4 separate regions of the Homo sapiens genome follow, and all the other regions are linked to region 3. The links come from fine-mapping of genetic effects on gene expression. A gene starts in region 3. Each other region holds a variant in brackets. All regions are shown on one strand. Distances are from middle to middle.

Evidence for each region.
Region 1: its variant is fine-mapped to the expression of MRGPRX2 in tibial nerve (GTEx, PIP above 0.99). The same link has a PIP of 0.9 or more in breast and subcutaneous fat.
Region 2: its variant is fine-mapped to the expression of MRGPRX2 in esophagus muscle (GTEx, PIP 0.95).
Region 4: its variant is fine-mapped to the expression of MRGPRX2 in esophagus muscle (GTEx, PIP 0.98).

The regions. Positions count from the first base shown.
Region 1 is chr11:18,922,246-18,929,776 of GRCh38, forward strand. No RefSeq gene overlaps it. Among named protein-coding and RNA genes, the nearest start is that of MRGPRX1, 13 kb to the right of the region's middle. The variant A/T (reference allele first, on the strand shown) is at 3,845.
Region 2 is chr11:18,767,888-18,775,418 of GRCh38, forward strand. It overlaps PTPN5 (protein tyrosine phosphatase non-receptor type 5), which reads right to left. Exons shown (of 15, transcript NM_006906.2): 2 at 4,052-4,184. The coding sequence starts at 4,071. Among named protein-coding and RNA genes, the nearest start is that of PTPN5, 20 kb to the right of the region's middle. RefSeq lists enhancers at 2,322-2,371, 2,623-3,124, 3,125-3,624 and a silencer at 2,741-2,790. The variant C/T (reference allele first, on the strand shown) is at 4,251.
Region 3 is chr11:19,056,288-19,063,818 of GRCh38, forward strand. It overlaps MRGPRX2 (MAS related GPR family member X2), which reads right to left and starts at 4,430. Exons shown (of 2, transcript NM_054030.4): 1 at 4,332-4,430; 2 at 1-140. The coding sequence starts at 115.
Region 4 is chr11:18,939,333-18,946,500 of GRCh38, forward strand. It overlaps MRGPRX1 (MAS related GPR family member X1), which reads right to left and starts at 82. Exons shown (of 2, transcript NM_001393578.1): 1 at 1-82. RefSeq lists an enhancer at 3,724-4,225. The variant C/T (reference allele first, on the strand shown) is at 2,620.

The DNA of each region.
Region 1 (7,531 bases), 130 kb before region 3:
AATGAGACTGATGAATTGACAGAAGTAGGCTTCAAAAGATGGGTAATAACAAACTCCTCTGAGCTAAAGGAGCATATTCTAACCCAATGCAAGAAAGCTAAGAACCTTGATAAAAGGTTACAGGAACTGCTAACTAGAATAACCAGTACAGAGAGGAACATAAGTGACCTGATGGAGCTGAAAAACACAGCACAAGGACTTTGTGAAGTATACACAAGTATCAATAGCTGAATCAATCAAGCAGAAGAAAGAATATCAGAGGTTGGAGATCAACTTACTGAAATAAGGCATGAAGACTAGATTAGAGAAAAAAGAATGAAAAGGAATGAACAAAACTTCCAAGAAATATGGGACTATGTGAAAAGACCAAACCTACAATTGATTGGTGCAACTGAAAGTGATGGGGAGAATGGAACCAAGTTCGAAAATACACTTCAGGATATTATCCAGGAGAACTTCACCATCCTAGCAGGACAGGCCAACATTCAAATTTAGGAAATAGAGAGAACACCACTAAGATACCCCTCAAGAAGAGCAACCCTAAGACACAGAATTGTCAGATTCTTCAAAGTTAAGTTGAAGTAAAAAATATTAAGAGCAGCCAGAGAGAAACGTTAGGCTATCTAAAAAGAGAAGCTCATCAGAATAACAGTAGATCTCTCTATAGAAACCCTACAAGTCAGAAGAGAATGGGGGCCAATATTCAACAGTCAAAAAAAAAAAAGTATTTTCAACCCAGAGTTTCATATCCAGCCAAACTAAGCTCAACAAACAAAGGAGAAATAAAATCCTTTCCTGACAGGCAAATGCTGAGGGATTTTGTCACCCCCAGGCCTGCCTTACAAGAGCTCCTAAAGGAAGCACTAAATATGGAAACAAAAAACCAGTACCAGCCTCTACAAAAACACACCAAAATATAAAGACCAATGACACTATGAAGAAACTGAGTCAACTAATGTGCAAAATAACCAGCTAGCATCATAAGGACAGGATCAAATTCACACATAACAATATTAACCTTAAATGTAAATGGGCTAAATGCCCCCAATTAAAAGACAAGGATGGGCAAATTAGGTAAAGGGTCCAGACCCGTAGGTGTGCTGTATTCAGGAGACCCACCTCACGTGCAAAGGCACTTGGGCTCAAAATAAAGGGATGGAGCAATATTTACCAAGCAAATGGAAAGCAAAGAAAAAACAAAACAAAAACAAAACAAAAAAAACCAGTGGTTGCAATCCTACTCTCTAATAAAACAGGCTATAAACCAACACAGAAAAAAAAGCAAAGGAGGGCATTACATAGTGGTAAAGGGATCAATGCAACAAGAAGAGCTAACTATCCTAAATATATTTGCACCCAATACAGGAGCACACATATTCATAAAACAAGTTGTTACAGACCTACAAATAGACTTAGACTCCAGCATAATAATAGCAGGAGACTTTTACACCCCACTGTCAGATAGATCAACAAGACAGAAAATTAACAAGGATATTCAGGACTTGAACTGAGCTCTGGACCAAGTGAACCTAATAGACATCAAAAGAACTCTCCACTCCAAATTAGAGAATACACATTCTTCTCAGTGCCACGTAGCACTTCTTCTAAAATTGACCACATAATTGGAAGTAAAACACTTCTCAGCAAATGCAAAATATTGGAAATTATAAGAAACAATCTCTCTGACCACAGTGCATTCAAATGAGAACTCAGGATTAAGAAACTCACTCAAAACCACACAACTACATGGAAGTTGAACAAGCTACTCCTGAATGACTACTGGGTAAATAAAAAAATGAAGGCACAAATAAAGAAGTTCTTTGAAACTAATGAGAACAAAGAGACAACATACCAGTATCTGGGACACAGCTAATAAAGAAGTTCTTTGAAACTGATAAGAACAAAGAGACAATGTACCAGAATCTCTGGGACACAGCTAAAGCACTGTTAAGAGGGAAATTAATAGCACCAAATGTCCACATCAGAACGCTGAAAAGGCTTGAAATCAACACCCTAACATCACAATTAAAAAAACTACAGAAGCAAAAGCAAGCAAATTCAAAAGCTAATGGAAGACAAGAAATAACTAAGATCAGAGCAGAACTGAAGGAGATAGAGACACCAAAAACCCTTCCAAAAAATCAGTGAATCTAGGAGCTAGCCATAGCCATACTGTTTTTTTGAAAACATTAACAAGATAGATAGACCACTAGCTAGACTAGTAAAGAAAAAAAGAGAGAAGAATCAAATAGACACAATAAAATGATAGAGGGGATATCACCACTGATCCCACAGAAATACAAACTACCATCACAGAATACTATAAACACCTCAAAGCAAATAAACTAGAAAATCTAGAAGAAATGGAAAAATTCTTGGACACATACACCCTCCCAAGACTAAACCAGGAAGAAGTTGAATGCCTGAATAGACCAATAACAAGTTTGGAAATTGAGGCAGTAATTAATAGCATACCAATGAACAAAAGCCCAAGACCCGATAGATTGACAGACAAATTCTACCAGAGGTACAAAAGGAGCTGGTACTCTTCCTTCTGAAACTATTCCAAACAATAGAAAATGAGGGACTCCTCCCTAATTCATTTTATAAGGCCAGCCTCATCCTGATACCAAAACCTGGCAGAGACACAACAACAACAAAAAAAATTGCAGGCCAATATCCTTGAGGAACATCAGTGCAAAAATCCTCAATAAAGTAATGGCAAACCGAATCCAGCAGCACGTCAAAAAACTTATCCATCATGACCAAGTCGGCTTCATCCCTGTGATGCAAGACTGGTTCAACATACACAAATCAACAAGTGTACTCCATCACATAAACAGAACCGATAACAAACACCACGTGATTATCTCGATAGATGCAGAAAAGGCCTTTGATAAAATTCAACATCCCTTCATGTTAAAAACTCTCAATCAACTAGGTATTGATGGAATATACTCAAATTAATAAGAAGTATTTATGACAAACACATAGCCAATATGATACTGAATGGGCAAAAACTGGAAGCACTTCCTTTAAAAACCGGAAACAAGACAAAAATACCCTGTCTCACCGCTCATATTCAACATAGCATTGGAAGTTCTGGCCAGGGAAATCAGGCAAGAAAAACAAATGAAGGGTATTCAAATAGGAAGAGAGGAAGTCAAATTGTCTCTGTTTGCAGATGACATGATTCTATATTTAGAAAACCCCATCGTCTCAGCCCCAAACTCCTTAAGCTGGTAAGCAACTTCAGCAGTCTCAGGATACAAAATCAATTTGTAAAAATCACAAGCATTTCTATACACCAATAATAGACAAGCAGAGAGCCAAGTCATGAGTAAACTCCCACTCACAATTGCTACAAAGAGAATAAAAGGCCTAGGAATACAATGTACAAGGGTTGTGAAAGACCTCTTCAAGGAGAACCACAAACCACTGCTCAAGGAAGTAAGAGAGGACACAAACAAATGGAAAAAAATTCCATTCTCATGGGTATGAAGAATCAGTATCGTGAAAATGGCCATACTACCCAAAGTAATTTATAGTTTCAGTGCTATTCCCATCAAGCTACCCTTGACTTTCTACACAGAATTAGAAAAAACTACTTTAAATTTTAAAACCAAAAAAGAGCCCGTATAGCCAAGACAATCCTAAGCAAAAGGAACAAAGCTGGAGGCATCATGCTACCTGACTTCAAACTATATCACAAGGCTACAGTAACCAAAACAGGATGGTACTGTTACCAAAACAGATATATATAGACCAGTGGAACAGAACAGAGACCTCAGAAATAACACCACACATCTACAACCATCTGATCTTCGACAAACCTGACAAAAAT[A/T]AGCAATGGTGAAAGGATTCCCTATTTAATAAGTGGTGCTGGGATAACTGGCTAGCTATATGCAGAAAACAGAAACTGGACCCCTTCCTTACACCATATACAAAAATTAACTGAAGATGGATTAAACACTTAAATGTAAAGGCCAAAACCATAAAAACCCTAGAAGAAAATCTAGGCAATACCATTCAGGACATAGGCATGGGCAATGACTTCATGATGAAAATGCCAAGAGCAATTGCAACAAAAGCCAAAATTGACAAATGGGATCTAATTAAACTAAAGAGCTTCTGCACAGCAAAAGAAACTATCATCGGAGTGAACAGGCAACCTAAAGAATGGTAGAAAATTTTTGCAATCTCATCATTTGACAAAGGTCTAATATCCAGAATTTACAAGGAAGTTAGAAGCACTTAAAAGAGGAAAACAATCAACCCCATCAAAAAGTGGGCGAAGGATATGAACAGACACTTCTCAAAAGAAGACATTTATGCAGCCAACAAATGTATGAAAACAAGCTCATCATCACTGGTCATTAGAGAAATGCAAATCAAAACCACAGTGGGACACCATCTCGTGTCAGTCAGAATGGTAATTTAAATTAGGAAACAAGAGATACTGCTGAGGCTGTGGAGAAATAGGAACGCTTTCACACTGTTGGTAGGTGTGTAAATTAGTTCAACCATTGTGGAAGACAGTGAGGAGATTTCTCAAGGATGTAGAACCAGAGATACCATTTGACCCAGCAATCCGATTACTGGGTATACATCCAAAGGATTATAAATCATTCTAATATAAAGACACTTGCATACGTATGTTTATTGCAGCACTATTTACAATAGTGGGTTAGGTTGGAACCAACCCAAATGCCCATCAATGATAGACTGGATGAAGAAAATGTAGTACATATACACTATGGAATACTATGCAGTCATAAAAAAGAATGAGTTCGTGTCCTTAGCAGGGACATGGATGAAGCTGGAGGCCATAATTCTCAGCAAACTAACACAAGAATAGAAAACCAAACAACATATGTTCTCAATCATAATTGGGAGTAGAAAAATGAGAACCGTTGAACACAGGGAGGGGAACATTACACACAGGGGCCTGTCAGGAGGTGGGCAGGAAGGGGAGGGAGAGCATTATGACAAATACCTAATGCACGTGGGGCTAAAAACCTAGATGATGGGTTGATAGTTGCAGCAAACCACCATGGCAGATGTATACCTATGTTAGAAACCTGCAGATTATACACATGTATCCCAGAACTTAAAGTAAAATAAAAAAGTCTGTACACATACGTGTATAGCTGCTTTATTTATAAATGCCACGTTAGAAAAAACAGCAATGTCTTTCCACTTGTGAATAGTGAAACAAAGCATAGTACATCCATACAATGGAACACTACTCAGTAGTATAAAAAAAAGTCAGCAATAAGCTATGGATACCTGCAAAAAGTTGGGTGGATCCTGAGGACATTATGCTGAATGAAAAAAGCCAAAGTCAAAAGATTAGATACTATATGATTCCATTTATATAACACTTTTGAAATGATGAAATTATAGAGATGAAGAATAGATCAATCACTAGAGGAATTTGGGAAGAAACATACTGTGGGTATGACAGTAGGAGGAGCCCAAGGGAAATCTTTGTGGTGAAGAAACACTTCTGTATGTAATGCGATTGTGGTTATGAATCTACACCTGTGACAAAATGTTATGGAATGAAACATAGAGGAATATCTCACTCCAAAAATGAGTGCATGCAAACAGTGGTAAAATTTGGTAAGATGGTACCATAGATATTTGGTGAAATTTGATAAGTTTTGTAGTGTAGATAATTAGATGGTATCAATGTCAATTTCCTGGTTTTGATAATACATTTATTTAACATGTAAATATTGCTGTAGATTGGGTGATGGGCATACAGGAACTCTTTGTACTGTTTTCATAACTTCTTCATAGTCTACAATTAATTTACAACGAAAACTTAAAAAACAAAGACCTGTTCGTTCTATGGACTTACCTCCATGGATATTGAAGTCACCAAGAATGAAGACATGGGGTTTGCTGGAAGGAAGTTTGTAAACCAGGCACATAGGCTAGAAGATAACATAGTAAGCACTAACAGACACCTTCCACAAAATTAAGCACATATTAAATTTTTATCATATTTGTTTCCAATAACTCTTAAAATGAATACATACACTTTTACAGACACAACTTAAGTCTGAATCATGCATCTCTACTCTCAGCAATAATTGTACATGTCTTTGATAAGAAGGCAAGTGTGCCTGCACACCTGGAGTGGGAATAACAATTTTCTTCAGAATGTCTGCGGTTAATATGTATTATTCTCTCACATGTGTACCAGGATGTTAAAACAGGAGTATTAAACTCAATGTCAAGTCACTACAGATATTACGTTACAAAGAGGTGCTAGGTGACACATAATTTTAATAGAAATTTTTGGGCATCCATATCAAAGCTATGCAGAGTTTGGGTCTGAATTTTTATGTGACAGTTACAATGTTGGATTTCCAGAGAAGGGGCTGCATTCCATTGCTTTTCTCTTCTCCCTTAAACCCCAGACTTTTTCTTGTTTTTTTTTAATCGATGCCTTCTGACCCTGGAGGGCTAGACATATCACCGTGAGGAGGGTAAGGAGAGCAGGGCATTGCCTTTGTGATTTGTCCTGTTGGGCTGCCCTGCCTGGCCCTCTCTGGACTTTACATTAATATAGAGCTCACCCCTGTGAATATCACAAAACGAACACCAACCCCTATCACTTCAAGGCCACAAAAGTTAATGCTCATTATTCCGAGTACTCCAGTCTTGTGATTCTATTTAAGATGGATCTTGCCACCATGACCAAATACATGGGGTGACACAAGGAATAAAACACATGTATGAATTATTCACCATTCCCCAAAAAACTCTATGCTTTTATTAACGGTGCCACTGTAAATTATCTCTCGTCCAATTTCCATCTGTCCAGATTCTATTTATCTCTCCTTGCCCAATACAAAAATTTAGGTGACTGGCAAAATTTACTAGGGTATAATTACAATAGTAATGCTGGGTTAATTGTAGTCATCGGTTAAAATTCTACCTATTACACGAAGTCTTCCATGATCCACTCACTTCTACATACACGCTCAGGAATGAGGTCTGCTCTGTCTCTGCCCTCCTTCCTTGTGTTTGCATCCTGCAAGGTTTCAGAACAATTGGACCAATATGATGGGCATGAGCATTGAGATTTCTTTTTTTATACTCTACTGTAACTGCTAGATAACAGCAAACAAATGCCATCTGTATCTATAGTGAGCATTGGTACATTGACAAAAATGGTGCCCAGCTGATACCACACCGTCATACAGAACAAGCATCAGAGCAGTCTCTTTGGATTCTAGGTCGCTTCCACATGGGTGAGAAGAACATATGCTTACTGTGATTATAGTCACTGTGTAGAGACGTAAATTTCTCAGGTGGTCTGGATCACAACACTATTTATCTTCAGTCCATGGTTATGGTAAAGTCACACTTTACCCACATATTCTGAAAAGAGATACCTGAGCACAAATGCACAAATGGCACAGTTTCAGACAGGGGCAATCCCATAACCTCACTATCTGCTTGGCTTGCCTGGAATGAGCATGTGATCCATGTTGGCCATGCAGTCAGCTTGAGA
Region 2 (7,531 bases), 290 kb before region 3:
GCCACACTGGGAAGGCTCTTTCCTCACAGCACCTTCCACATGCTTTTCTCTCACATGGTATGCACTTGACACGGTTAGAAATGTCACTGTAATATATGCCATTATTCAACATCTGTCTCCATCATTAGACTGTGGCTTTCATGAAGGCAGGGTCCACTATTTCTGTTTTATTTACCATTGTATCTTCAAAGCCTCGCACAGTGCCTGGTTCGTAGTAGGATGTTCAATAAATAAACACTTATGGAATAAGTAAATGTTGACCTGACGTTCTTGAGAAAACATTAGGAATCTCAAACACAGCCATCATCTGAGCTGCTTTGTGGACGGGTCTTTGCTAAGTAGCTGGGAGCTCTCCTCCACAGCTGTTGTCCACAGAAGTCAGAGAATCACAGATCTGGAAGGCCTCTCATTTTACAGAGGAGAAACTGAGCCAGAGAATGGGGTCTGACTTGCCCCACATTTTATACTGAGTTGGTGGTGGCCACAGGGATTGTGTTTGAGAGCACCCACCCCCAACCTTCCAATCCTAAACTTGTTCTTTCCTTACCCTAACGAGCACCTAGCTGGATGGCAGCCCATGAGGGCTGACCCCTGGCTGGGTACAGAAAGGCACAGTATCCAGATACCTCTGGAAGGGGACCCATGTGTGACTCACACCTGCTTTCACACCTTAAGCCTCTCAGGCCCCAAGCTGTGTTCAGAATAGCTCAGTGCTTCATGTGTGCAGTGGACTCTATAAATAAGCTTCCTAGAAAATGACTAATTTCATAACCAGAAAAGCAGAACGAGTAGCACCTCTTGACTGCAAAGGAAAATGGAGCAAGAGCCTCTGCTGCTCTTCCCTGTAGTCGAAGGACTCCAGGCAACCCCAGCCACAGCCTGCGTGTCTAGACTGTCCAGAGGAGGGTTTAATTAGCTTTCCAAAGAAAATACATGGCCCATTCAGGCTGGATGGGGAACCCAGTCTCTGGGCGCTGCCTTCCTCCCTCCCCACCAAGAGCAGAAATAGCTGCTTTTATTGGATTGCTAAGGCTCCTGCTCTCTCCTTCCCCACTTCTATCAGCCAGGCAACAGGAACAGAACACTGGCCTGTGACAACAGCAGCCACTTGCTGGGCTGCCCCCACCACTGCTTCCCTTATAACCAGAGACCACCAGGGATGAAGGGACTTGGAAATCACCCAGCCTGCCCCCACTTCACTGATGGAGGATGTCCCGGAGTGAAAGTAGCTTCCCAAAGCCATCGTCGCATTCAACAGGCGTGTGCTGAGCACCTCCTGTGAGCAAGGCCTGGAGCTGCCCTAGGAATACAGTGATGAATAATCCAGGCCCCTCCTTGCAGGCTCCCAGTCTTCTCAGGGAGACAGACATGCAGACACGACTGTACCCTGATGCCTGCTTTAATTGATGTATGCATGTGACCATCCTGGGGAAGGCTCTGCTCATTTGTGGGAGGGGCAAGGGGAAGAGGAAGTCTTCTCCAAGGGGGAGACAGGAGCTGGTTTTTTTTTAAATTAATTAATTAATTAATTTTTGAGACGGAGTCTCACTCTGTTGCCCAGGCTGGAGTGCAGAGGCATTATCTCAGCTCACTGCAACCTCTACCTCCCCGGTTCAAGTGATTCTCCTGCCTCAGCCTCCCAGTAGCTGGGATTACAGGTGCCTGCCACTATGCCCAGCTAATTTTTGTATTTTTAGTAGATACGAGGTTTCACCGTATTAGTCAGGCTGGTCTCAAACTCCTGACTTCAGGTGATCCTGCTTGCCTCAGCCTCCCAAAGTACTGGGATTACAGGCGTGAGCCACCGCGCCCGGCCAGGGACTGGTTTTTAAAATATGTTTTTAGGTGAATGGGGGGTTGGGAAAAGGATTTCTTGGGTAGAGCAAATAGAAAGAGCAAGGCATGGAGGCCCAAGATGTGTGGAACATCTGGTGCCATCAGAAGTAGGCTGGTCAGTGGGATGGAGCAGCAGATGGGGGCTAGGCCTCAGCAGAGGCACGTGGGCAAGAAGCAGCCTAGAAGACAGGAATCCTGCCTCCTGGGGTGGCGGGGGAAGCCCTCTTCCACTTGATCATGTGGCTTCCCTGTGGCTTCCCTGCACTGAGAGTGATGCTGGCTCTCTCACACCTGGTCTGGCTGGGTAGGTCTGTAACACGAAGTGGGGGAGCAGCAGCTTACGTTTAAGGAATGGACTTTAGACCCAGCTGGTAGCGTCCGATCTGGTCTGAAACTACTCTTTTTACTGTGCTAAAATTCCCATAGCATAAAATTCAACATTTTGACCATTTTAAAGGGTACAATTCAGTGGCATTTAATACATTCATAATGTTGTGCAACCATCATAATGATCTGCTTCCAGAATATTTTTGTCACCCCAAAAGGAAATCCTGTACTCATTAAGGAGTCACTCCCTGTCCTCCTCCCCACAGCCCCTGGCAACGGCTTATTTGCTTTCTGTCTCTATGGGTTTGCCTATTCTGGATATTTCATATAAATGGAATCATAAAATATGTAGCCTTTTGTGCTTTTGTGTTTGGCTTCTTGCACTTAGCAAGTCCGTAGCATACATCAGTACTTCATTCCTTTTCATGGATTCCTTTTCAAGGCTGAATAATATTCTACTGTAGGACAGACGATGTTTTATTTATCTATTCATCAGTTGAACATTTGGCTTGTTTCTACCTTTTGGCTATTTGTGAGTAGTGCTCCTGTGAACCAAACTGCTCTGTTTCCACTCTCCTCCCATCACGCTTGTGGTTTTGGGCAATCCTTTCTGCGCTCTGGGTCTGAGGCCTCACTTATGAAAATATGGTGGTCAGACTCCAAGCCTGTTGTAACTTGAAGGTCATCACCTTCCTCTGCTCGTTCGTATGTGTGAAGGTAATGCGTTGTGCAGCTACGCCACCAGTGCTGGGTGCTGGAGATCCAGCCTAGACCACCCACCCCATTTTCTAGAAGTTCACGGCCAGTGCAGAAGATACAGAACAGCTGCTGCCGTGGGCTGGGTGAAGTGTTCTAACAAAGGCACCGCCCCTCTGCCTGGGGGGTAGAGTGGGGGATGGGGGGTGCTATTAGGAGACATCCTGGAGTCTCCTAACATGAAGTCCCAGCTTTGCCCAGGACTTATGCAGAGAAAGAGCTGGCTGGTTTGCTGAGCCAATCAGGGAGCCTGAGCCTGCTTCCAAGGTCGGTGAGGAGCAAGGGGGAACTGGGATGCTGAAGCCAGGATTCCTGGGTGTGAGGCTGAGCCAAGCCCAGGCAGACATGCCCTCTATCCTGGGCTTTGTGCTCCTGGTACCCCGTAAATACCCCTCACTGTCAACGTGGAGCTCCTACCACCCTCTTAAAGCTCCAACCCCACCTGACATCTCTATTCGCTGAATCAAACCTGTCCATTCCTCCCTTCGAGCCTTGTTTGTGCTGTTCCCTCAGCCTGGAAGATCCTTTTCCCCTTTTGTCAAATCTTACTCATTCTCCAAGGTGCGACTCAGGCGGTGCGTCTTCCACGGAGCACTCCCTGATCTCTCAGGAAGAACTGCGTCCTCCCACTTCTGGGCTCCCCCACACACCTGGTTCATATGTCCCTTTGTCTCTTACTTTGTTCTGCTGCTATAGTTAGCTGTGTATGCACCTGCCTCTCCCACCAACTTCCGACTCTGGAGCATCCTCACCCCCTCAACCACCTCTGCATCCCAGGTGTTTAGCACAGGGCCTGAGCCTGTTGATGTACACCTTAAAGGCCAAATGCAGGGTAGTGGCAGGGTCTCAGGGTTGGTAGCTTTAGGGGCTCTAGGAAGGCAGACTCCAGCTAGGAGCATCCCAATTAAAGAAGATGGCCAAACCATAGCCAGGAAGAGGCCCATAATGCCATCCAGATTTTCATCAGCACGTTCAGCAGGCAGGGGCAGAGGGCATGCTGGTTTCATGGAAAAGGAATGATCAGGCTGAACACCTCATGAGAATGGGTCACGTGTCCCAGAGCATCCAGATGGAGAAGGCTTGGCCTCCTCAGTGGGCGGGTTGCAGGGGGACGGCGTAAACGCTCACTCACCTGGCTCCCTCATAATTCATTCCCAAGGTGTCTGGATGGGGAAGGGTGCCATCTTCCAGGGCAGGAAGCTTTCTCAGCAAAAAGCAAGCTGGTGATATAAATGAAGGAGAGAGGGCAGCTTCAGATCATCCAGCTGGGAAAACGGGGCAAAGAGAGATTAAGTGACTAGTCTCAGGTCACACAGTGTGCCAACAATTTG[C/T]TTTCAGGTAGTTAAAATCCTGATTTCCTTCTGGGAGTCACCTTTCTCCTCCCCTGGTGCCCTGCTTGCCTCTTGCTACACAGACAGCCCAGAATCAGAACTCAGTATTTATATCATACCCCAAAGCCTTCTAATAAATATCTTTTCTGCCTAAGTTACTCAGAGTCCTCTTCTGTTGCTGGCAACCACAGAACCCAGACTGATGCGTGCAGCAAACTCGTGGAATGAATAGGCTCTGAGCCCAGGACTCCCAATGCTTAGTTCACTGCTATTTCCGTCCTGCCAAGCTGCCTACCCTCCTTGCCCAGCTGTCCACTGTCCAGCCATCTGTCCTCACGTCTGAGCAGACTGCAAACTTGAGTGTTCTGGATCCCAAACACAGGGTCTGAGTGTTCTCTGCTTGGGATGTGCCCAGACAAATGACTTCCCTTCCATCCCTCCTCTTCTCTGAGTGGGAGAAGTGGGTGCGGGCATGGCAGGGACCCCAGGGAAGGGAAGATGAAAAGTGCAGGGTAGGCCCAGCCTGCTGAGGGGCTCGGGCAACAGTTGTCCATTTTTCATTTGAGTCTGATTCAGGGATTGGACCATTCATTTGTTCAACCCGTTTACTAAACACCTGCTATGTTCAGGCTACGTGTGGGACCCTGGGAATACAATGAACGACAAGCATCTCATGGGGGATGTAGGTAAGAAGAAAAGGCAATGGTGACACAGGTGACCCGTGTGCGGGGAGACGAGCAGGGTGCCCTGGGAGTGCCAGCCAGACCCCTAAGGAGGCAGAGGACTCAGGAGACGTTTGGTACCCAGGAAGGGCCATCTCTGGTGAGATGTGAAAGAGGAGTGGGGGTGAGAGGCCGTGGGATGAGACAGGAGGGGGTGGGGTGCTCCAGGTAGAAGGAGGGCATGTGGACGGGCCTGGAATTGACACAAAGCAGGACACATTCAAGGACTAGAAAGAAATGTAGTCTAAAAGGGGAGTGTGGAAAGGGGGTGAACCGCTCACTTGGAATTTTTTCCTTTTCCCTCCCCTTCTTTCCAGAGAGGTAAGACAGACCTATATTCCCTTGGGAGAGGCGGCTTGGCTGCAGGACCAAAGGCCAAGTTCCTGGAGGAGCTATCCTTCCAGTCTTTGTTTTGTAAAAGCTGGAGCACCTGGGGGCGGGTGTCTCTTTGTCAGGGAGGTGGGGGTGTGAGGAAGGGGAGGGGGTCTCCGGGCCTGGGAAGGTGACAGAGCCCATCAGTTTCATGACTGGTGCCTGGTGTGTGGGTGGGTGGCACTGAGTGCATAGAGAGGGCTGGATCTCAGCCTGCAGGGCTTCCGCTGCACCCCACACGGCGTCCTCCCGACAGAAGGCACAGAGTCTGCAGACCCAGAGGGGCTCTTCAGTGGGGCTGGGGTATCTCAGCTATAATCAGTGTGGTTTCCTTGAAACATCCCTGGCATGGGGGTCACAGCAGTGGGTCAGAGTCATTCCAGTGATGGCTGGGATTGAATTTCCTACCAGATAGGGATGCTGGGGAGCTCTGAGTCTGGGCTAATTTCATTTAAGGAGCATAATGAGACATTTCTTCCATACCTGATATTAAGGATTAAAAAAATCAACCAGTTCTAAGAATAGATTCTTGGCTTGGGAGGCAGGAGACCAGCCAAAAAGGTGGGTGTGTCAATCAGGTAAGAGATGGGGCATCCTAGCCTGGGACTGCAGCTGGGGACTGCCCCCTTGCTGGGCCACCTGCTCCAGTCACTCTGATTTCAGACCGTAACTGCCTCCTCATCACCCCCGTGACCATGAAGGACATCCTTCCCTTCACCCTTTGCTTACGTTGTCTCTCTTGCCTGGAAGGCCATCACCTCTTTGCACCCCTCCTTAAAATCAAACTCAGACTTTAAGCTCCAGCTTAATCTTGAATTGCTCTAGGAAGCCTTCCCTGGGGATAGGTCTTCACTCTGCTCTAGTCAAACTGTGTGGCTCTAGGAAAGTGTCTTTATCACTCTGAGCCTTAAATTTTTCTCATATGTCTAACACGGATGACAACACCTTCCACACAGGATGGCGGTGAAGATCACCAGTGAATGAGAAAGGTGAATGTTGACTATCATGGTGACTGGTGAACAGCAGGTGCTCAGGATCTGTGCAAACCACCAACAAAGGCACAGCAGAGAAATGAGGGTGGTGGTGGTGGGGAAGCAGGTGTAGACAAAGGGCTCTGAACAATGCCAAGTTGTCTGGGGCAGCCTTTGGACAAGAGAGGCATCCCAGGACCATGTGCCCTCCCTCGCTGACAACAGAAAGGCGTTGCTGGGCCTGCAGGTGTCTGTGGTCTGGTCCAAAGGTCCAGTATGAACTGAATTTACCAGCTTCCCCCTGTACTCTGAGGAGGAGGGGGCTGGAGGGGGCTTGAGGAGCCCTCGTCCTGCCAAATTCCTAGATTGGGTGGGATGGGAGCAGGAAAAACACACACAGATTCTTTGCTGGCTTTGGCCACCCTGCTGGGACCAAAGTAGCAGGGGCTAGCTGCATAGGCAGCATTGAGAGAGACCAGGGGCTCATGATTGAAGCCAACACATTCTGTCCTAAATACATCTTTGGGGTGGAGGGTCAGAAATTCACAGTGATTCAGCTCAGACTCTGTGGACCCTCCCAGCCTCTTCTCAGGGCCACTTTGGCTTTCTTTTAAAATCTACACTTTTAAAATTTCATGGTCAGGTTGGTGAGGATGGAAGGGAACAGGAGGAGGTGATCTGAGAGAGAAAGGAAGCAGGAAAAAGGGCAGAAGCAATCTTCGGACCACCTGTTCAGTAACATCTTAGCTCCCGACCGAAGAGGATAACAATGACAGTATCTTCACAACAGAAAGGGCAGCTGTCACTACTGCACCCGGACCACACAGGCCAGGAACTGCTCCAGGGCAGGTGTTAGCAAACTCAGTCCTCACAGCAGCCCCTGGAGGAACGTACTAACGTTTCCTGCATTTTCTAAAGGCGGAAATGGAAATTCAGAGAAGTAAAGTGACCTGCCTAAGGCCACACAGCTAGTTATCACAGAACTTCCCCCATTGCCCACATTCCTAACCTCTCTTTCACTTTTTAGCTTTTGGTAAGAAAAAATATTCCGCAAATACAATAGGAAGAGACAGCATATCATGGCAGTTGCTTTCTATATGTTCTTTTAAAAAATCCTCACCATAAATCTATGTGAGTAGCATGTGATGATCACCATTTTTACAGACGAGAAAACTAAGGCTCAGGGGGTGAAGTGACCCAAGCAAACGAGTGAAGG
Region 3 (7,531 bases):
AAAGGATCAGGAAGACCGGGATCAGGGTCTCCTTGCCACAAAGCAGAAGAAGGGCTTGGTCATTTCCATTCACTGTTGTACTTTCTGTTCCCCAGGCCGGGGTGGTTGGATCCATGCTCAGAAAACCTCCACTGGTGCCCCTGGAAACAAAAACAAGACTTGAGCACCTGCTGCATGTTCACTGATTTTCATGACCAGCCTGTTATGTGGTAATTACCGCCCCTGTTTTACAGGAGAGGAAATCAGAGGCTTGAAGAGATTAAGTCATTTATTAAGGGCCAGGGAGTCCTAGCACCTGGATTCAAACTCATTTCTTGCTGACTCTAAATCCTGGGCTCTTTCTATTACAAGGTAGATCCTCTGCTGGTATGGGAATATTCTAAGGCCCAAACACCCCCACTCACTGTCACTGTGTCATGTCTCCTGGAGGCAGGAAGAGAAAAGTCTAGGCAGAATATGTGGGGCAGCAAGAGACAGTACTCTGAGTTCAGGATTCTTTTTATCCTGGCATACAGATTTCCTCTCAGGGGCCAGAAGAAATGACCCAGGCCATGACCCATGGCCACCCTTAATGACTGAGAGGAGTCCATCAACAGTCAGAATGGAGATTGTGATTTAGGGTCATAACGGAGAGGTGACTTCTTGCTAGGACAGGTCTGAGGACAGCCAGGCCTGTCAGACTAGAAATTGCTCAGTGGGTCAGCTTTATGAAAACAGAAAGAGTTTTTCTCTTATCCATTTCTGTGTCCTCAGTGCCTAGCTCAATGTGAGGGCATAGTGGAGGGTCAAGAAGTTTGTACCACATATAAATGAATGAATGAATGCATGCATGCATGCATGGGGAGCCAAGAGTAGTTGAAAATTTGGGCTAAGTGGAACACCAACATTTTAAAATGAAATTAGTCACTAAAAAACACACATGTAAAGAAATGAAGAAAACATCATTCTTCATGTTTCCTTCTGGGAAAGCTCTGGTGTATTTGAAGGGATTGCTTCTGCCTACACAGATAGTGAATAATGGCCACTGTCATATCTTCAATCCAGGAAGGGCTAGTATATGGCTTTTGCTCAGCACCCAAAAGAGTTTAAACTTCCAGTTTATGGAGAGGATTCAGGGTTTATCTGAATTTCTCTGCATCTTGGAGGAAAAGGGGGCAATTTGGGAAAAGGAGAGAGAGGCAGCAATTGAGAGTGTCTAGTGTCTAGAGGTAACTAGAGGGTGTTGTGGTATGAATACATCTAAGGTGGACCCATTACTTCCCCCAGATGATTTTGAGCTTTCTTTGCAAATTAAAGCATTTGTGAACAGGATTATTTGGGGAAAGGAGTGGGAAATTAGAAAAAAGAACCATGTCTACACTGTGCAGGGCTTTGAGGGGAAAAGGCAGATGCTTATGCAAATTACACTTGGGAAGGAGCCCTTACTCATAATGGGGTGAATAATAGCAGCTGGCTGAATGCTCTTCAGGTATAGCCTCTTTAAATCTTCTTCAGAGCCTGGTGAGGTCAGTACTATTATTAGTCCCATTTTACAGAGAAGGAGATTAAAGCACAAATGTATTGAGTAATATGCTTCAGGTCTCACAAACAAGTGGTAGAGCCTGCATTTGAACCCACAGGTCTGTGTCAGAGGGCTTGTTCTTAACCAGCCTTGCAGCCCCATTGCAAGGGTTCAATACCAACTACACATGAAGAAAGGAGAAAAGCAACAAGTAATGCTCATATCAAATCCAAAATGGAATGTCGAAATTGCAGTTTTTTAAGCCTAGATTAAGCAACTTTAAGAAACAGTAAGGAAGAGAGATTAATCAAATAAGGAGAAGAGATATGAATAGAAGCCAACTGAGAATAAGCAACTGAATGCAAGAGCTCTTTCTTGCTTCAGAAAAACAGCCGTCAATCACTCCACACTGCAGAAAACTCTCATGGGTTGGAGGCCTCCAAGGGGAAAGTGAATGTGTCCTCCATGGGGGTGCAGAATTGGCATCAAGGACTGAATGCATCCATCACATGCTGTCTTAGTTCCTGTAGCCCTGGTTGGCCTTGTGAGGATATGGAAGAAAACCACTTCTGTTGTCCTCCCTCAGGGCAGGTTGGCCTTTTTATTCGTGGCACTGAACACAGTTTGCACCTGTATTTTTTTTTTTTTTTGAGATGGAGTCTCGCTCTGTCACCCAGGCTGGAGTGCAGTGGCTCGATCTCGGCTCACTGCAAGCTCCGCCTCCTGGGCTCACGCCATTCTCCTGCCTCAGCCTCCCGAGTAGCTGGGACTACAGGTGCCCACCACCACGACTGGCTAATTTTTTGTATTTTTTTTTTCAGTAGAGACGGGGTTTCACTGTGTTAGCCAGGATGGTCTCGAACTTCTGACCTTGTGATCTGCCCGCCTCGGCCTCCCAAAGTGCCAGGATTACAGGCGTGAGCCACCGTGCCCGGCCCTGCACCTGTATTTTTAAGTGTATGTCTGTTTTTTCTTTTACTTCCCTCATTAAGCTCAACATTTTTGTTGTGGTTGTTCACTATTATATCCCCAGCCTCCAACACATATCCCTTGGAGGCCATCTATTGTAATACGCTCATTTAACAAAGAAAGACAGGCTTAACGTGTACAAAAGAGTTTCCTGAATCACATGGTGAAAAGCAGGTCCAATACCAGCTCCAGTCTCCTGGGGCCCTGTCCTAGGTTTATTTCTGTTCCATGTCTACATCATTCACTATTTGTGAGGCAGTGTTGAGAAAAATCTCCAGGTGAGCACAGATGCTAAAAGAGAATCGGGCTATAGAGACTGCTTGTTGCCCCAAAAGCCATTCTCCTTTTCTCACACATAATAATTCTGAGTCTTAGATCAGAAAAAGGCCCATTTCTCAGCTTCCCTTTATGCTAATGGCACCATGTAACCATATGTGATGGTCAAGGGGAGGTGAGAGAAAGTGATATAACCAGCTACTCCTGTACTCTTTCTTTTTTTCTCTTCTCTCTGGCTGGAATGCTGATGTGTTTGGGAGCCATGTAGGACCATGAGGGTAAGGGTACCGCTTTAGGGATGGGGAAATAGAAATTGGAAGGAGCCTTGATGTTTGATGTCTTAGAGTTATCAGCCCAAGTCTAGTAAACATTCTTTTTGATTATCACTATAATAGGTTTCTTTTTAGAGAAGCCAAAATCATAAACTTACATTACACATACCTGTGTACTTATAGCTGGGAGTACCTATGTACTCCCAATCCCTTTTTTTCCCAACCACATTCCATTCTCAAGGCATTTATGATGATAGTGAGAGACTAGTCCAAAGAAGTGACACTAGATGGGAAGGTCAAACAATTAAAAAAAAGGGAGGTGATAGAATGAGAAATTGATTCAATCACATTAATAGAGAAAGTCTCAGGAAAGACAAACTGAGAAGAGGCTATGGGAAGAAATGGACTTTCCTATTTGCTATTAGGATCTCATGTCCATCCTTCTCTACCTGCCTTTGCATCCTGGGAGGAGACATGTCTGTGCCTCGTCAATGGGCTGTCTTTCACTCAGGCTCCAAAGGGTACACATTGACAGGAGATTGGAGGGTGACTTTTTTTTTCAGCCAAAGGGACACATTGACAGTAGATTGGGGGATGATTTTTTAAAAATTTCCTGGCTCTCTCCCTGCGCCCTGAAGGGCTGTGAGTTGGCAGTGGCAGTGTTTTTCTACCTAAGGACATAGCCCTGCCTGGTGGCCCTTTCCTGTAGCCACAGCTATAGTTACAGTTACAGTTACCGCTACAGCACATTCTGAGTTCTCAGAACTTCTCTTTCTCCTTATCACTTCAGACCTAGCAACGGTAACAGCCCTCCACTATCACTTGCCTTTGAGGGCTTCATCATTCCTTAATCCCTGTTCACGCCGTTGTAAACAGTCTCTTCACTAAACTCCTCTAAACTACCCCTTTAGAGTGTGTGATGTGTGTTTTCTGCTGGGACAATGACAGATATGAAGGAAAAACCTTTTGAATAACAAGAAAATCAGTGCAACCTGAGGTTTTAAATAACAATTTAGCTTAGGGAAGTAATGACTTCATTCTAGCCTGCCCCTAAATTAAAATCAGCAAAATCTTTCTCTCCATAGTTTCAGATTTGAATGGTCGAAGAGAAGGGGAGAATATTGGTAGATAGAAGAGAAGTGGGACGAACCTGCTTGACCCCATTCGGATCTCCCAGCATCTAAGCTGCCAGCATCCAAAGCTTCCTCAAAGGAGCTTCCTGTCTTCTTTTCCTAATGAATTCATCAGGATGTGGACTAAGGTAAAAACCAAAACTGCCTTTGAAAGAAGATGGTTCTTGAACAAACTCTTACCTTAACACCCTTCTTTCTACTGGAGTTGGTGAGTTGAGAAGTGCTTTCCTGGGACTGGCAAACAGCTGAGGATGGGGAGATGCCTGCAGGATCTGGAGTGAAACCTGATGACTGAGTGAAGCTTATCAAGATGCTCAACAACCCTGTGATTTCCTGTACAGAGGGTGCTGGAAAATAAGAGTATGACACAGGAAACCACATGAGATGTTTCTCAGCATTTGCCCTGACTCCAATCACTTATCTTGGTTTCTCCCCTACCCTCTCCGGCCCCACTCCCTGCAAGGAATCACCGTCCTGAAGTCTTTCATTGCCCACAATGAGCATCCAGGAAGCAGACCAATCAAGCGACGTGAGCTTTCATAGCTAAAGAATAGTCTGCCCTCTTCTGCTTGGCATTCAAGGCCCTGGCTTACTTGACCTTTCAAAATCAGGTTTATTTCAAATGACACTAAGGTGTATAAAATGAAATGCAAAGTCTCTCGAAGTCTCATTCCCCAAAAGCAACCACTGCATACAGTTTCCATTCTTTTTTTTAAAAAAGCTTTGCGTAATAAAACAACATTTCTATTTTTGATTTATCGATGTTAACAACTAGATATATTGAGTCTCCTTATAAAATATAGGGGACTTAGCACATCACATGCACCATCTGTCACGTTTCTCCCTCTACATCATGATATTTATTAGCTAGATTATTTTTAGATCATCTAGAGCCAACCAATATTTTCAGCCTTATCTCCTATGACTTCCTTTCATGTGCCTATGCTGCAGCCAAATTGAGTTATAAGTAACAATTATGAAGCATTTAAGACAATCAGAAGAAATTATTCACTCATTTATTCATTCATTCAACACTGTTTATTGTTTGCCTATGATATGTCAGGTACCGTTCCAGGCAATGAAGACACAATGATGAACACCATACAAGATCATGCCCCTTTGCATTCCAGAGCAGCTGGGTGACCTCAGACAGGGAACATGTGTTGATTGAGGCGAGTTCTGAGACTCAGCATTTTCTTGTATTATACTTTGGTGCAGTGGGTAAACCATGCATTTGTCCCCAGAAATCTGCTTTCCTCATGAGCAGCAGCAGGACCTTAGAAAGCTTTAACTTCTGTTACTGTCTAACCTACTGTGCTCTATTATTTGATTTTGATTCTGTTTCCCTCCAACAAATGAAACACTTATTATTGTTTTAAATAGTCAGTGTTTATTCAGATTTATCCACATAATCACCAATGCTTTTGCTCATCCTCCCATTTTACATCTCATATCTTCCATTTCTCAAAACACATTCTTCAGGAGTTCCTTCTGTGAGAGTCTCTGCATGGTAAATGCCTCCTTTTATCTATCTGAAAATGTCATTGTTTCACCCTCGTCTTCTAAAGATGGTTTTTCCAGGCATGGCATTGTAGGGTGATAGTTTCTTTCTTCCAGCACATTGAAGATCCATGTTCTGACTGCCAGGGTTACTGTTGCGGCCATCAGTCAGGTTGCCATTTGCTTGTGGTGATCTGCCTTTTTTTCCTCTAAGAGCTTTTATTTTTCTCTGCTATGATACATTCTCACCAAATTGTATCTGGTGACTCTTTTTCAAATCATGTTTGGGATTTGTGGAGTTTCCTAGATTTTAAAATTATCATCATTTAACATTTTTAAACAATTTAATGCTATAATCTCTTTAAATATTAACATAACGGTGAAGAACACAAGACCAGGCTACTTGGCATTTCTCCTATGGGACCTTAGCCAGATTTTGTAACTCTGTTATGTTTGTTTCCTCATCAGTAAAATGGGGATAACATTATTAATCTATAGGTTTGCTGTGAAGATTAATAATTTAATGTATATAAATGATTTACAATAGGAGCACATAGTAAGTACTATAAAATTATTAGCTCTCATTATCACTTTTAGTATTATCTCTTTCTGGAAGTCTAATTCAACATATGTTAGCCCTCTTCTTCTATCATCCTTATTTCTTTAACCTTTTCCTTATGTCTCGTCTCTGTCTCTGAGGCTGCTTTCTGGGTAATTTCTTCAGATGTATCTTCCAGTTAACTAGATTCTTTCCATTGTGTCTAATCATCTGTTTAATCTATCCACTGAAGTTTAAATCCAATTTTTATATTACTAATTTCTAGAAGTTCTATTTTATTTTTTTAAAATTATACTTTAAGTTATGCGATACATGGGCAGAACGTGCAGGTTTGTTACCTACGTATACACATGCCGTGGTGGTTTGCTGCATCCATCAACCCGTCATCTACATTAGGTATTTCTCCTAGTGCTATCCCTCTCCTAGCTCCCCACCCCCTGAGAGGCCCCAGTGTGTGATGTTCCCCTCCCTGTATCCATGTGTTCTCATTGTTCAACTCCCACATATGAGTGAGAACATGCAGTGTTTGGTTTTCTGTTCCTGTGTTAGTTTGCTGAGAATGATGGTTTCCAGCTTCATCCACGTCCCTGCAAAGAACATAAACTCATCCTTTTCTTACGGCTGCATAGAATTCCATGGTGTATATGTACCACATTTTCTTTATCCAGTCTATCATTGATGGGCATTTGGGTTGGTTCCAGGTCTTTGCTATTGTTAATAGTGCTGCAATAAACGTATGTGTGCATGTGTCTTTATAGTAGAATGATTTATAATCTCTTGGGTATATACCCAGTAGTGGGATTGCTGAGACAAATGGTATTTCTGGTTCTAGATCCTTGAGGAATCGCCACACTGTCTTCCACAATGGTTGAACTAATTTGCACTCCCACCAACCGTGTAAAAGCGTTCCTATTTCTCCACATCCTCTCCAGCATCTGTTGTTTCCTGACTTTTTAATGATTTCCATTCTAACTGGTGTAAGATGGTATCTCATTGTGGTTTTAATTTGCATTCCTCTAATGACCAGTGATGATGAGCATTTTTTCATGTTGGTTGGCCATATAAATATCTTCTTTTGAGAAGTCTCTGTTCATATTCTTCACCCACTTTTTGATGGAGTTGTTTATTTTTTCTTACAAATTTGTTTAAGTTTCTTGTAAATTCTGGATATTAGCCCTTTGTCAGATGGATAGATTGCAAAAATTTTCTCTCATTCTGTAGGTTGCCTGTTCACTCTGATGATAGTTTCTTTTGCTGTGCAGAAGCTCTTTAGTTTAATTAGATCCCATTTGTCAATTTTGGCTTTTGTTGCCATTGCTTT
Region 4 (7,168 bases), 120 kb before region 3:
GGAGGGCCTTTCTGGGATTCAGTGACTTCAGAGAACCCTTCTGTGTTGCTTAATTCAGGAGATGCATACAGGAGCTGGAGTCAAAGCTGGTGAGCAATCCAGGCTTATGAAGATGCTGGACAGACTTGTTATTTCCTGTATGAGGACTATGGACAAATCAGTGGCCAGAGGTATTGGAGACACAAACCCTACCTGAGATGATTCTTGGCCTCTGTCCCATATCCAATAGAGATAAGCCTCTCCCATCACATTCCATCTTGTTCAACTTGCTTGATAAAAACAGTGGCGCAGTTTGAGAGAATGGACTCCCATTTTAAAAGAAGTTCTATTGTGTATAAAATGCTATGCAAATAGCATTGCATGCTACATTAAAATCTTTCATAAAAGGATGAGTCAGTTGATGTGGCAGACTTCACTGTTGTCTTGTTTTAAGATATTGGCACAGCCTGTCTTACCTTCAGCAGCCACTTCAGCAGCCATCAATATCAAGCAAGACCCTCCAGCAGCAAAACGTTTGGCTTGATAAAGTTTCTGATGCTGGTTACCATTTCTTAGTGAAAAAGTATTTTTTTAAGTAATGCATGCACATTGCTTTAGACATAATGCCATTGAGACTCAATAGAGTACAGTATAGTGTAAGCATAAATTTTACATGTACCGGGACACCAAAAATTCATGTGATTCACTTTATTGTAATATTTGCTTTATTGCAGTAGTGGAAGTGGACTTCTAATATCTTCAATGTATGCCTATTATGATAAAGGTTGTATATCAAAGTAGTGTGTAAAACAGGCACAATTGAATGAATGGGATTGGGACAACTGAGTTTCTGTGTGAAATAAGTAAAGGTGGAAACATACTTTACATATGATTTGAGGATACATGCAAATACACTACTTAAAATTTTATAATGAAAATACAATTACCTGGAGAAGCCATAGCCAAATAGTTTTTAAATCAAAGTGGAAAAAGACTTTCAATTATAGGATACAATTCAGAAGATATTAAAGAAAATATTTATAAAGACAAAAAGGCTAGCTGTGATGGCCCATTCCTGTAATCCCAGCACTTTGGGAGGCTGCGTGGGTGGATTGCTTGAGCTTACAAGTTTGAGACCATTCTGGGCAACATAGTGAAAACCCGTTTCTACAAAAAATACAAAAACTAGCCTGGTGTGGTGGTGCATGTCTGTAGTCCCAGCTACCTGGGACGTTGTGGTGGCAGGATGGCTTGAGCCCAGGCCGTGGAGGTTACAGTGAGCTGACATCACACCATTGCACTCCCCTGGCTGATAGAGCCAGACTTTGTCTCAAAAAAAAAAAAAGTTATTTTTTTTAGCATAACATTAACCATCATAATCAAGATATAAATAAACTGTGGCCAGGCATGGTGGTTCACCCCTGTAATCCCAGCACTTTGGGAGGCCAAGGCAGGCAGATCACCTGAGGTCAGGAGTATGAGACCAGCCTGGCCACCATGGTGAAACCTGGTCTCTACTAAAAATACAAAAATTAATTCGTTGTGGTGGGACACGCTTGTAATCCCAGCTGCTCGAGAGGCTGAGCAAGAGAATGGATTGAACCTAGTAGACGAAATTTGCAGTGAGCCAAGACTGTGCCTCTGCACTCCAGCTTGGGTGACAGAACGAGACTCCATCTCAAGAAATAAATTAGTAAATTAATAAAATTAAATAAATAAACTGGGAGATGTTTGGTAATGTATGTTATAGCCAAAGTATAAATTTTCTCTATTGATACAAATTTTTCTAAATGATGTTAATAATTCAAAATTGAAAAAGGTAATAAGAAAATAACTTTAAGTCATGATTCACAATTTCTAAAAAATAAAAATGGCTCCTAAACATATGGAAAGAGGAGAAATTCAACTCATAATGAAAGACATGCCAATTGAAATTACAGAGTTATATTTTATTTACCAAAATCTAAAAAACCATTAAGTTTTATAGCATACAGTGTGGGGATGGAGTGGGATCAGGTACCCTCACTCATTTCTGCTGGGGATGCAGATGGATACAACTTCCAGTGAAGGCTGTTTTCAACATATGGAAGCATGTATAAAGCACCATCCTTTTCTCTCTGTAATTCCTCATCTAAGAATTTATCTTAGAGATATATTTGTGCATGTTCAAAAGATCTATGTTCTGAGTTAATAAATGCAGTGTTATTTACAGTCAAAAACTGGTAACAGCCAAAATGGCCATCAATACTGTATAAATTACTGTCTATCTATGCAATAGAATACTCTGTAGCTACCCAGAAAGAGCAACAAACCTGATATAAAAGGCCCTGCAGAATTTGTTAGATTTTTTAAAAAGAATGCAGACCAATGTATATATTGTATGAAAAATATATATATTGTTTTATTATTAAATATTTGTGAATTAATATACACTTATTAGTAAGTATAATAGGATATGTCTTTGTTAACAAGGCAAGGATGCCTGAGGACCTAAAATGGGAATGACAGTTTTCAGTGAGTGTATTTAAAGATTATTTTTGAAAGCTTTGACTTTATTACCATGTCACAAATAAATTTTCAAACAAAAAACATAAATTTAATGATCTAGCTAAGAGAGGGAGTTAGAGATATGAGAAGATA[C/T]AAGGAAGGGTGAGGAAATGAAGATAATGAGTACAGAAATCTCTTTGGAAGATATTTTTTTCTAAAATAAAGAAGATAAATCAGGCTGTGGATAGAGACGAATGGTTGCTTAGATGGTGTTTTATGCCACAAATAGGATGGGGTGTTTCAGTTGCAATGGAAGGATCCATTAGAGAAGGAAACATTGAAGATGTAGAAGGGAGAGGCAATAATGCTATAAAATGTTTCTGGGGAGGCAAAAGGGGAAACTGCACAAATGGAAAGGGTGGTTTCAAACAGGAATTTGCAGAGCCCATTTCCTGGCATGAGAGAAAATGCAGAGAGGTGTGCTCAGAGGCACATGGGGAGGTAGGTTCCCTCTGGGGAGATTGAGTAATTCTCAGAAGAGCATCACCTGACAGTGATTAAAAAAATAAATAAAGAGTAGGCGGTTTCAGGAGAGAGAAAATGTCGTGAAGATTTTCCTTTGGAGAGTGAGAGGCAATTATGGAAATGTTACGTGAGTGTTCAGGAGATATAAATGGACCTTTCAGGTTCAAGGTTATAAATGTACAGTGAAACCGCTGGGCATGGTTGTGTGTTGTGCTGCAGCCACACTCTGTTCTATGGGAACAGGCATGGAGTTAGTGGAGAGCTGGATTCAAGCAGGGTAAAAGACGAACTGATACTTCAGCAAGGACATATATGCATGACAAATAAACACATAAAAAGATGCTCAACATCACTAATGTTTAGGACAACAAATAAAAGTCACGAGATACCACTCTACCCTCTCAATATGGCTAAAATATAAAATACTGATAGTTTCAAATATTGGCTGAGATTTGAAGGAATTGGAGGTCTCATACACTGCCAATGAGAAAGTAAAATAGTAGAGCTACTCTGGGAAATCTTCTTGCATTTTCATATAATCCAGCAATCCAGCGTATCCTAGAACCTGGAAAATGTATCCTAGAAACTGGGAAACTGTGTTCACTTAAAAATCTGTACAGGAGGGGGGCCAAGATGGCCAAATAAAAACAGTTCTGGTCTGCAGCTCCCAGCGGGACCAACGCAGAAGACTGGTGATTTCTGCATTTCCAACTCAGGTACCCAGTTCATCTCATTGAGACTGGTTAGGCAGTGTGTACAACCCACGGAGAGCAAGGAGAAGCAGGGTGGGGCATCGCTTCATCTGCGAAGTACAAGGAGCCAGGGGACACCTGTCCCCCAATCAAGGGAAGCTGTGAGGAACCCTGCTACCAGCCCAGTACTACGCTTTTGAAATGGTTTTTGCGATCCGCAGATCAGGAGATTCCCTCGTGTGCCTACACCACCAGGGCTCTGGGTTTCAAGCACAATATTGGGCAGCTGTTTGGGCAGAGACCGACCTAGATGCAGGAGTTTTTTTCATACCCCAGTGGTGCCTGGAACTCCAGTGAGACAGATCCGTTCACTCCCCTGGAAAGGGGGCTGAAGCCAGGGAGACAAGTGGTCCCCTGCCTCAATGGGTCCCACTCCCACAGAGCCCAGCAAGCAAAGAACCACTGGCTTGAAATTCTCACTGCCGGCGCAGCAGTCTGAAGTCGACCTGGGGCGATTGAGCTTTGTGGAGAGAGGGGTATCCGCCATTCCTGAGGCTTTAGTAGGCGGTTTTCCCCTGACAGTGCTAAGAAGGCTGGGAGGTTTGGACTGGGCGGAATTCACCACAGCGCGGCTAAGCAGCTATGGCCAGACTACTTCTCTAGATTCCTCCTCACTGGGCAGGACATCTCTGAAGGACAGACAGCAGGCGCAGTCAGGGGTTTACAGATAAAATTCCTATCTCCCTGGGATGGAGCACGTGGGGGAAGGGGAGGCTGTGGGCGCAACCGCAGCAGATTTAATCTTTCCTGCCTGCTGCCTCTGAAGATAGCAGCTGATCCTGACAAGGGGGGTTCTCCCAGCACAGTGCACCAGCTCTGCTAAGGGACAGATTGCCTCCTCAAGTGGGTCCCTGACCCCCGTGCCTCCCAACTGGGAGAGACCTCCTAACAGGGGTGGACAGACACCTCATACAGGAGAGCTCTAGTTGGCATCAGGCCAGTGCCCCTCTGGAATGAAGCTTCCAGAGAAAGGATCAGGCAGCCATCTTTTGCTGTTCTGCAGCCTCCACTGGTGATACCCAGGTGAACAGGGTCTGGATTGGACCTCCAGCAAACTGCAGCCGACCTGCAGAAGAGAGGCCTGACTGTTAGAAGACCAACTAGCAAACAGAAAGCAATAACATCAACATCAACTAAAAAGACCCCCACACAAAAACCCCACCCAAAGGTTATCGGCCTAAAAGATCAAATGTAGATAAATCCAGAAATATGAGGAAAGCAGTGCAAAAATACTGAAAATTCCAAAAACCAGAAAGCCTCTTCTCCTCCAAACTATCGCAACTCCTCTCAAGCAACAGCGCAAAACTGCATGGAGAATGAGACTGATGAATTGACAGAAGTAGGCTTCAAAAGGTGGGTAATAACAAACTCCTCTGAGCTAAAGGAGCATATTCTAACCCAATGCAAGAAAGCTAAGAACCTTGATAAAAGGTTACAGGAACTGCTAACTAGAATAACCAGTACAGAGAGGAACATAAGTGACCTGATGGAGCTGAAAAACACAGCACAAGGACTTTGTGAAGTATACACAAGTATCAATAGCTGAATCAATCAAGCAGAAGAAAGAATATCAGAGGTTGGAGATCAACTTACTGAAATAAGGCATGAAGACTAGATTAGAGAAAAAAGAATGAAAATGAATGAACAAAACCTCCAAGAAATATGGGACTATGTGAATAGACAAACCTACAATTGATTGGTGCAACTGAAGGTGATGGGGAGAATGGAACCAAGTTCAAAAATACACTTCAGGATATTATCCAGGAGAACTTCACCATCCTAGCAAGACAGGCCAGCATTCAAATTTAGGAAACAGAGAGAACAACACTAAGATATTCCTCGGGAAGAGCAACCCCAAGACACATAATTGTTAGATTCTCCAAAGTTGAAATAAAGGAAAAAATGTTAAAGGCAGCAAGAGAGAAAGGTCAGGCTACCTAAAAGGGAAGCCCATCAGAATAACAGCGGATCTCTTTGCAGGAACTCCACAAGGCAGAAGAGAGTGGGGGCCAATATTCAACATTCTTAAAGAAAAGAATTTTCAACCGTGAGTTTCATATCCAGCCAATCTAAGCTCCATAAGGAAAGAAGAAAAAAAATCCTTTCCCGACAGGCAAATTGTAAGGGATTTTGTCATCACCAGGCCTGCCTTACAGGAGCTCCTGAAGGAAGCACTAAATATAGAAAGGAAAAACTGGTACCAGCCACTGCAAAAACACGCTAAAATATAAAGACCAATGACACTATGAAGAAACTGCATTAACTAATGTGCAAAATACCCAGCTAGCATCAGGCAAATTGGATAAACAGTGAAGACCCATAGGTGTGCTATATTCAGGAGACTCATCTCACGTGCAAAGACACACATAGGCTCAAGATAAAGGGATGGAAAAATATTTGCCAAGCAAATGGAAAGCAAAAAAAAGCAGCGGTTGCAATCTTAGTCTCTGATAAAACAGTCTTTAACTAATGAAGATCAAAAAAGACAAAGGAGGGCATTACATAATGGTAAAGGGATCAAGGCAACAAGAAGAACTAACTATCCTAAATATATATGCACCCAATACAGGAGCACCCACATTCATAAAACAAGTTCTTACAGACCTACAAAGAGACTTAGACTCCCACATAATAATAGCAGGAGACTTTTACACCCCACTGTCAATATTAGATCAAAGAGACAGAAAACAAGGATATTCAGGACTTGAACTCAGCTCTGGACCAAGTGAACCTAATAGACATCGACAGAACTCTCCACCCCAAATCAACAGAATATACAGTCTTCTCAGTGCCACATAGCACTTATTCTAAAAATCGACCACATAACTGGAAGTAAAATACTCCTCAGCAAATACAAAAGATTGGAAACAATAACAAACAATCTCTCTGACTGCAGTACAATCAAATTAGAACTCAGGATTAAGAAACTCACTCAAAACCACACAACTACATGGAAATTGAACAACCTGCTCCTGAATGACTACTGGGTAAATAACAAAATTAAGGCAGAAATAAAGACGTTCTTTGAAATCAATGAGAACAAAGAGACAATGTACCAGAATCTATGGGACACAGCTAAAGCAGTGTTAAGAGAGAAATTTATATACCAAATGCCCATATCAGAAAGCTGAAAAGGCTTGAAATCAACACCCTAACATCACAATTTAAAAAACTAGAGAAGCAAGAGCAAGCAACTTCAAAAGCTAGCAGAAGACAAGAAATAACTAAGATCAGAGCAGAACTGAAGGAGCTAGAAACACGAAAAACCCTTCAAAAAAATCAATGAATCCAGAAGCTGGCTTTTTCAAAACATTAACAAGATAGATAGACCACTAGCTAGACTAGTAAAGAAGAAGAGAGAAGAATCAAATAGACACAATAAACAATGATAGAGGGGATATCACCACTGATCCCACAGAAATACA